3 separate regions of the Homo sapiens genome follow, and all the other regions are linked to region 2. Evidence: fine-mapped expression QTL. A gene starts in region 2. Each other region holds a variant in brackets. All regions are shown on one strand. Distances are between the middles of the regions. Region 1 overlaps CACNA1D (calcium voltage-gated channel subunit alpha1 D). Region 2 holds the start of CACNA1D (calcium voltage-gated channel subunit alpha1 D). Region 3 overlaps CACNA1D (calcium voltage-gated channel subunit alpha1 D).

What was found. PIP is the estimated chance that this variant, and not a neighbour inherited with it, causes the effect.
Region 1: its variant is the best candidate, but not a certain one, in a credible set for the expression of CACNA1D in whole blood (TOPMed, PIP 0.51).
Region 3: its variant is the best candidate, but not a certain one, in a credible set for the expression of CACNA1D in whole blood (TOPMed, PIP 0.78).

The regions. Positions count from the first base shown.
Region 1 is chr3:53,674,290-53,676,963 of GRCh38, reverse strand. All of the region lies in intron 8 of CACNA1D (calcium voltage-gated channel subunit alpha1 D), which reads right to left. Among named protein-coding and RNA genes, the nearest start is that of CHDH, 170 kb to the left of the region's middle. The variant A/G (reference allele first, on the strand shown) is at 1,140.
Region 2 is chr3:53,493,247-53,495,920 of GRCh38, reverse strand. CACNA1D (calcium voltage-gated channel subunit alpha1 D) reads right to left here and starts at 1,310. Exons shown (of 48, transcript NM_001128840.3): 1 at 688-1,310. The coding sequence starts at 754. RefSeq lists enhancers at 1-245, 246-1,031, 1,362-1,861.
Region 3 is chr3:53,593,517-53,596,190 of GRCh38, reverse strand. All of the region lies in intron 3 of CACNA1D (calcium voltage-gated channel subunit alpha1 D), which reads right to left. Among named protein-coding and RNA genes, the nearest start is that of CACNA1D, 100 kb to the right of the region's middle. The variant A/G (reference allele first, on the strand shown) is at 1,699.

The sequences.
Region 1 (2,674 bases), 180 kb before region 2:
ATATCCTCAATGACAACTTAAGGTTAAATTGCAACATTAGACATAGACATTCTCAGCCCCTCCCACAGAGCACTGTGATCAGAGATGGAAGTATTCATCTATATTCATGCATGGCTGCATAGGGTTTACAGTTCATAAACTTCATACTTACCTTGAGGGAAAAAAGACTGTTATAAAACCAAAGATTTTCCCAAAGCATCAGTGTTACAACACTTTACAAATAAACACCAAATCCAATGTGCAGATTAAAGTCTGTTCAAGAATACAATAGGATGGCATGGCCACACACATGACGGAGCCAAGGAGCAAAAACAGATACAGGTATTTCCAAATGGCTGACAGACTTGAAGACATACAGCACCATCTAACATTTCCTCGTGAGAAGGCAATCACATGGTCTCGACCAGCCTTTCTAAAATGAGGGCGTTTTAATTCAGTGCTTAGCGGATTACATTTGTGTTGGTCTGACAGTCCCTCAGGGTCTATGCAACACAAATTGTCTTCCTCTCAACATTTATATCCTTCTGGTTTTGCAGTACCTCTAGTGTTCCCTTAAAAAATTATGAAGACTCTTGAGGCTAAAATTTAAAAAAATAATAATAATTTGCTTAAACAACAACAAAAATATCAATGGGAAAGTAAGAGGGGAGTAGCAGGCAGAGAGGGAAGGTGGTGGTTGGGAGGGCGAGGGGGCGGAGGGGCGGAGGTGGAGGCATGCCAGCCCATCGTCAGTCGCCGGGGGAGATGCCTCCTCATCTCTCTAGTGCAGCTCACAGAGCCTCTGGGTCTGCACCTCTACTGAATATGTGCCCTTCTGCACTGCTTCAAAATGGGCTACCCCATGAGATAATGAACGCCTAAGCACAAGGCCGCTGTCTGTGTCTGAGACATCCTGGCACCCCTCGCCTCTGGACCAGAGCCGGGCACTCTACAGGATCTCAGGAAATACTGGCCAAATCAGGAACAAAGCTGCGAGGCTGTGCTTTGCAGACATGGTTCTGCCTTTACCCAAACCAGCCCTACCGGAGGCCTTCTGGGGGAGTAGAGAGGAGGTCATGTGCAGCCTCTAGGGGTTTGAGCACAGCCCGCACTGACAGTTAAAAATCGCAGAGAAGTCTCGGGTTTTCTTTTATAATTTC[A/G]TGTGTCATTTCCAGTCTCCTCCATCAGGGATCTAAGTTTTGTTTTGATGAAAAAATATTTTTTAAAAAAATTATTTCCCCCCAAAATATATTTCAGTAAACTGGTTGTTCCATGAAGGAGTGTACCTTTTTTATCCTCCAGCTTTGGGTACCTCCCACGGAGTTGCAGGTTTAATCCCCATTTGTGATAGTGGGAAGCCCCCCCGCCCATCTTTTTCTCTTTTCTTTTTTTAAGCACCTCACGATCTGGCTCCTGCCTCTACTTCATCATGTCTGCTGGGGCAACGGTTCCTGCCTGGGAAAGCTAAAAGATAAGGGATGTCACCGGCACTGTTAAAATTAGTGGTTTCCATGGCCTCCGTCAGTTTAGCTGGGTTTAGGAGACATGAGGCGCCAAGGAATTCACAACAGGATTGCTGTTAACCTTGTATAGAAAGCTCCTGTGGCAAAATCAAATGCGATGTTATTTCTCCAGGAATAGACACCACCCTCACATGTCCAACCCTAGCCTAAGGCCACTGAGGTTTACTAGGAGAGAGACACTTCTCACGTTGAGGTGGAAGGGCCGGAGGCTTGAGGAGCCACTCATCTACAGGAGGCGGCTCAGGCAGGGGAGGGTTATGTGGCCCCATCCCAGGCTCAGCCCCCACTCCTCTCTCTGGCGGGCACTGGCCCCTGGGCCAACTCTACATAGGGACTTCCTGTGACAGTATGCGTCCCTGGTGTGGAACTGACTACATTCAATCCAGGGCAGGTTTAGGGGAAGATGCAGAAAGGAAGCCGAGATGGATAAACGCACTCTGCTTTCTGCTCTGGAAAAGGCAGTGTTTCCAAAAATGCGATTAAAGCCTTTCACTAACTCAGCATACATGAAGACATCACTTCCCCGAGATACAGCCTCGGAAAGAGCAAGATAAAGTGAGTGAGGAGGAGATAAACTTGCCTGGAATCAAATCCATCAACACTACTTCCTGAGGGTGCCTGGGCGCAGCGCAGTGACAGAGGCTCCTCTGGGAGACGTGGGCCCCTCTTGGCCTCCTGGTATCCTGCCTGCCCCCCACAACCCGGCAATGGCTGTATGAAGGAGCTGATTGTGAGAGAGCCATACAGCCCCCAGCTCCCTTCTCTGTAGCACCCCACCTTCTGGGGGTGTCTGAGAGGCGGTGTGGATGCAGGGCTGCCCACAAGGGTTCTGGGATGGCATCTCCAGCTACGGGCAAGGCAGAGCCTGCAACATAAGGAGTTCCCTTTCCAGGCCAGAATCTGTTGCACCCTCTTTATGGAGAGTCAATCCATAGAGAGGAAGTGATAAACAAGCAAACTTCAAAAATCGTGACTGAATGACGGGGTCTCTGTAAGGCCATGGGAAATGTGTGCACAAAAGTCGATCATCACTCTGCATTAAGAGAAGGATTCTGTAAGTTTCGGTTAAAACTGAATCACAGGGACAGTTCTCACAATGACAGCACTAGAACACCAAGCTAATAAAGAATCCCAATCTAAGGAAGATTTTGAAACTGTCCAGTATTTATGTG
Region 2 (2,674 bases):
GACCCAGCCCCGGCCGGCGTGGAAGCTGCACGTGGTGCCCGGGCCAGAGCTGGGGAGGGGAGCCCCACAGCGGCAGCGGCTCCCCGGGCATTGCTAGGTTACCGACGTGTGCACAGCCGGCGACGGGAGCGGGAACGCACGCTCCACCCGAACCCCTTTCCCCGATACCGAGGCCGGGCCTCCCCCGCGAGGGGATGGGTGTGCTTCACCCACCGGCGCGGAGGGCGAAACCGGGCAATCCTAGAATTTTCCGGATGCCACCAGGGACCTTCTTCCTAGTCAACGAGGGGGCGGGGGAGGAGTGGAAGGCGAGAAGAGGCTGGCAAGGGGGCTCCGGCTGAAGACTTGCGGCCCTCCTGCCATCGCTCGGGGGCGTTGAAGGAAAGTTGAGCCCGAGGACACTGAACCCGAATCACCCCGACTCGCCGCCCCTCCGGCTGCACCGCGCTCCACACACTCCACGGCCGCCCCCACCCCACAAATGCAGAATTAACTCTGACATTCAGGGCCTGGAGGGGAGCGCGGAGTGGCTGTCACGCATGTCCCCTCTCTGTGTAGACGACACCGAGCTGGCAGCACCCTCTCCAACCCCCTCAACCCATCCAGCGCCGCGGGGAAGGGGGAGGGGGCTGGAGGACCATGACAGGATCGGATTTGGCAGCGGGTGCCCGGGCTCTGGCTGCTCACCGTTCGCGTGGTCCGCTTGCTGCTGCCGTTGATGCTGCATTTTTTTCATCATCATCATCATCATCATCCACGAACATTTATTGAGCGACTACTGTGTGCAGGGCACTGTGCTGGGCGTTGAGGCGGGGGCGGAATGGGGAAGGGGATCACCAAGAGGTAGGAGCCGCGGTCCCTGCCCTTATTCTCGCTTCAGCAGGGGGGTGGGGAGGGACGGGGACAAATAACAGAAAATAAGGATAATTGATTTAAAAAAAAAACCGCTCGCCACCCAAGCTCTCTCTTTTTCAAAAATGGAGCAAAATAAACTTTTTAAAAAAATAAAATCCAATGTATATATTATCTTAATAATATATACATGTAATTTTTTGCTGCAAAGGAGAACTGGCTTGTCCCCTCCTCTAGCGGAGAGACGCCGCGGTGATGCCGGCCCGGCCGCCGGGGCCGCTCGGCGCTCCCCCCATGCCCGCCCGTCTGCCCGCCCGCCGCGGTGCCCGGTGCCCGCCGCCGCCGCCCGCGCCGCCGCTGGCTCGGGACCGCGGGCAGCCGGAGCTCACATCCGGGGACGGAGGCGCTCGCCCGCCCGCTCGCTCCGCGCCCGCCGCGCCGCGCCGCACGCCGGCTTCGCCCTGGCGACGCTGCGCGCCCGCCGCCGTCCCCCGCCCTCCGCCCGCCCCGAGCCGCCCACGGCCCGCGCCGCGCCGCGCCCCGGCGGGTCTGCAGCCCGGCGCGCGGTTCTGCCCGGCACCACTTGCGCGCTCGGGGTGGCCGTCGCGTGGGACTCGGGGTGCCGCCACCCCAGCCTGGCCCGGCTGACCTGCGGGCTCCAAAGGGTTAAGCGCGCTCCAGCGGCGGGCTGCCCGGTTAACCCCCTCCGCGCCGCACGGTGCGCTCTCCCCCCGGGACCCGGAGGAGGCAGGCGGCGCCAGTGTCTCCCGCGGCGCTGGGGTGCGGATGAACCGCTCCTCCCCGCGCATTTCTGGGCTGGGGGACAGCTCGGGCTCCCGCGCCGGCCCCGACTCCGCGCCGGCCTCCTCTGCGCACACCTGGAGGAGGCCCCGCCCCCTGGGAGCTCAGGTGCTAGCGGGCGGTAGCTGCTGCGGTCTCCGAGCTCATCCTCGTCAAGGCTCGGCCGGGCTCCCTGGCTGCTCCGGAGCGGGGCAGGCGCCCCCTGCTTTTCTCCGGCCCTTTCTGGAATCGGGGGGGTTGGGGTAGCCCGGGTCTGTAGAGAGCACTCACTACCCCAGGTAACTGCCTGCAGCTGGAACCGCGAATCCAGGGCGCCCCCCATCTTCTCCCCTGCCCTGCGCCTGGCCTGGCGTCGCGGAAGGCAACGGGGATGGGGGGCAATATCTCCCCCCACCCCACCCCGCCCCCACGTGTGTTTGGAGGCAGGTACAGGGAAGTCAAAGCCAAGGTCTTTCAAACCGCTCGTGTTGTTCAAGGAAATAGACGGTGCTGCTGAAACTGTTGCCTCCAGTCTGGGAGCTGAAGGGAGTAGTTTATTTTTTGATACCTTCGCTGGCTTGGATTTAGGGTGGGGGAGATTTGCAAACGGCAGCTCCTGTCTAAAGGGGAAAATACTTTATCTAGTGGATGACTGATATTTTTCATTTAGCTTTGTGCTGCCTGTTAGGAGAAGGGCGTCTGCTTTGTTACTTCACAGGATTCGATTTATTTGCTTTTGTTCCTATCTGCATGTTCCTACGGCGTTTTAGAACGTTTCAGAACAGTGACTTTAAAGCGAAAATAAAGTAAAAGCTCAGCGTGAATTAAGAAAAATAAGTGTTTATGGGAAGGTGCTCCTTACCCAAAGAGAACACACTAGTCATCCTCAATTGTTGGGGGGCACCTGGGCAGAGAGACTGGGGACCAGACAGAAGACTCTCCAGAGGCCTTCCTGAGGGGGTGTCTGGTCCGTGAGGATGAAAACAACCAGGCTCTTGTCCTTTTTTGTGCTTTGTTTTTGGAGACTGGAGAGGCGAGAAAT
Region 3 (2,674 bases), 100 kb before region 2:
TCCCTAGTACAGCTGTCCGTCCCCAGCATTGCATGGCCCTCTCCAGTATCAGCCAGAAGAGAACTGTGATACAGCACACACGCTACTAGGTTCTCAAAGCCCCATGGATCCCAATCTTATTCGCCATCTCTTTTTGGTATTTAAAGCAGTAAGTGGCTAAGCCTTGTTTCTGTAATGATGACAGAATTCTGTAACTGAAAAGAAACCCCAGGAGATCAAGAAGGTCTAAACCGGTTGTTGACAACAGATGCCATAATTTAATAACACATTTTGCTATACACACCCCAGCATTCCCTCCTGCCCTGCCCATCTGTCTGAATCACCTCCAGGCACATGTCACAAAATGCCTTATGATCAAATGAGCACATGTCCTCATGAAGACTAGACTGTAAACTCATCGAGGGTAGGAACCATGAAAAACCTTTGTAATTTTTTTCACCAATTCTTACCCTTCCTCATCTCCCTTGCTGCAACTTCAACTGCATTCTAGACAAACCGAGTTAGGTCAGGCAGGTGTCAGTAGAAACCAGGGTCATCCTGGAGTGGGTAAAAGAGTCAGGCAGGGGCCCAGGACAACAGTGGGTCTAGAGTCGGTAGACTCTGGTGAGTTGGGTCAGGGGGCACCGCAGGAAGCAATCCCAGATGTTGAATAGTTCCCGGGGCCAGCTGGAGACAGAGGACAAATGGATGTCTCCTCCTACTCATTGAAAGCTCCATGGTAATCCAGAGCTTCAAGGCAACCCTATACTGTGGGTGAAAGTTCCAGGGGTGGGATGGGGGAAAGGTGCCATGTTTTCCTCTACTCCTTGGTTTGGCCTCTGGTGTCCATCCTGTTCTTCCAAATGAAAATATTCTTAGATCCACCCAAATCCTCCAAATGCTGTCCACCTGGTCCTCCCGTGACTGCATCCTTGCATTCTCCAGTGGGAAACAGGGCACTGTGAAAACAAGCCGGCTGAGCTGGCTGTCAAAAACCTAATTATTAACCCTAAGGGGGACTACAGATACAAAGATTATACTCCTTACTACACAGCTGTTTATAAGAGTTGTGTGGGACTAATGCACCATTTTAATAGCTAAACAATTAGCATCACTAAAATAGATGACCAATGTATAGACAACATGGAAAAAATACCAATTGAAACCTGAGGAAAGAAATCAATAGCAAAACAACAGGACATTAAAGCTGAAACGGACTGAACTCCCACCATGCCTAATGCCTGATCAATAGACGAATTCAAGATCTGATTTTCATATCTGGGTGACTCCTGTCATTTTTTCCTCAATCTGCAAGTCTCAAGGGACTTTATTTCTGATGCTCTGATCACAAATCTTCACATCTTGGTCAAGGGGAAGAAAAGCAGGATCCCTGATGCCTATGACAGTGGCTGCCACATACACACAAGGGTGTGGAATTGTACTAACGTGAGAAAGGTAAGAAGGCTTCAAGAAGGCTGCTGCTCTTTTCTGCATGCAGAGAGTGGGATCAGCCACCTGCCATTACTCCACAATGATGTTTCTTTCTGCCTTGAAGCCTCTGTATCTTCCTTCCGCCTGGAAAATTCTGTCCCAGAGCCCCACATGGCCTTCCCTGACCACCCTTACCAGGTGCTGTTGCATAACCTCCCTTTCTTTCCTACAGGAGGCAGGTGCTCTCTAAATCACCTCCTGTATTTACTCATTTGTCTCCTGAGTAGA[A/G]TGGAAGCTCCAGGCTGACCTTTTCACCAAATATCTCTAGTGCCAAGAGCAGTACCTGCTATCTAGTAAGTGCTCGACAAACACTTGCTGAAGGGACTGAATTGGCTAGTGGAAAAGCATGGCCTGAGGAACCTGGGATCGAGCTTATCCTGACTCTAGTCTCAGTAATCCCAAAGCATTTGAGCAACTCTGTCCCCATCCTCAGGTAAGGCCTGAGGGAGCCACCTTTGAGACCAACTCAGGTTGCTTCGAATGCTGTAAAATAATACAATTATTGTCTGAAAGTGGTTTTCTAACTTTTGTCGCTAAGACGAACCAGACTTCACACTTATGGGTGAAAGCCTTTCTGTTCAAGGGCGTCTCCCATTCCATTAGCCTTTACACACACGGACACACGTGCACACTCCCTACCTCACAGACTCCTTGTCAGACTCTGCCAGGCCTGGTGGGCTGTCACTGAACTTGGTTTCTGTTGTTCCTTCTTCTAAGACTTCACCTTACTCACTTCTTTCTCTTTTTCCACCTTCTAAGAAAAGCTGCAGCTCCCTGAAGAATGCATCCTAACATCAGCGTTTCTGACTGAAGCTCCTGCAGAGCTGGCTGGGACTGCAGCCATCTCCGCTGGTGACCCAAGCACTGAGGCAGTACACGGGCCACATTTCCCAGCCCTGTAGCAGGCAGATAAAGCACTTCCTTCTGCCCACGTGCTAGTTGGGAGTGGGGAGAAAGGGAAAACCAGCTTAGAAGGAAAAAATCCCAGCTCCTTGGGTGGCCTTGGAGCACTGCTCTTCCCACACTTTGAGGGGGAAGAATACCCACTGCCCTTTCCTTTCACCTCTCCTGCACCTGCTCATGACTTCAACACCAAGAGGGATTTCCTGATAATTTTACAATCCTCAGACACCCTCATATACAGAGCTACAATCAACCAACACTCCCATCACCACCAACTGCCCAAGCACCTTTGGGAGCAGAG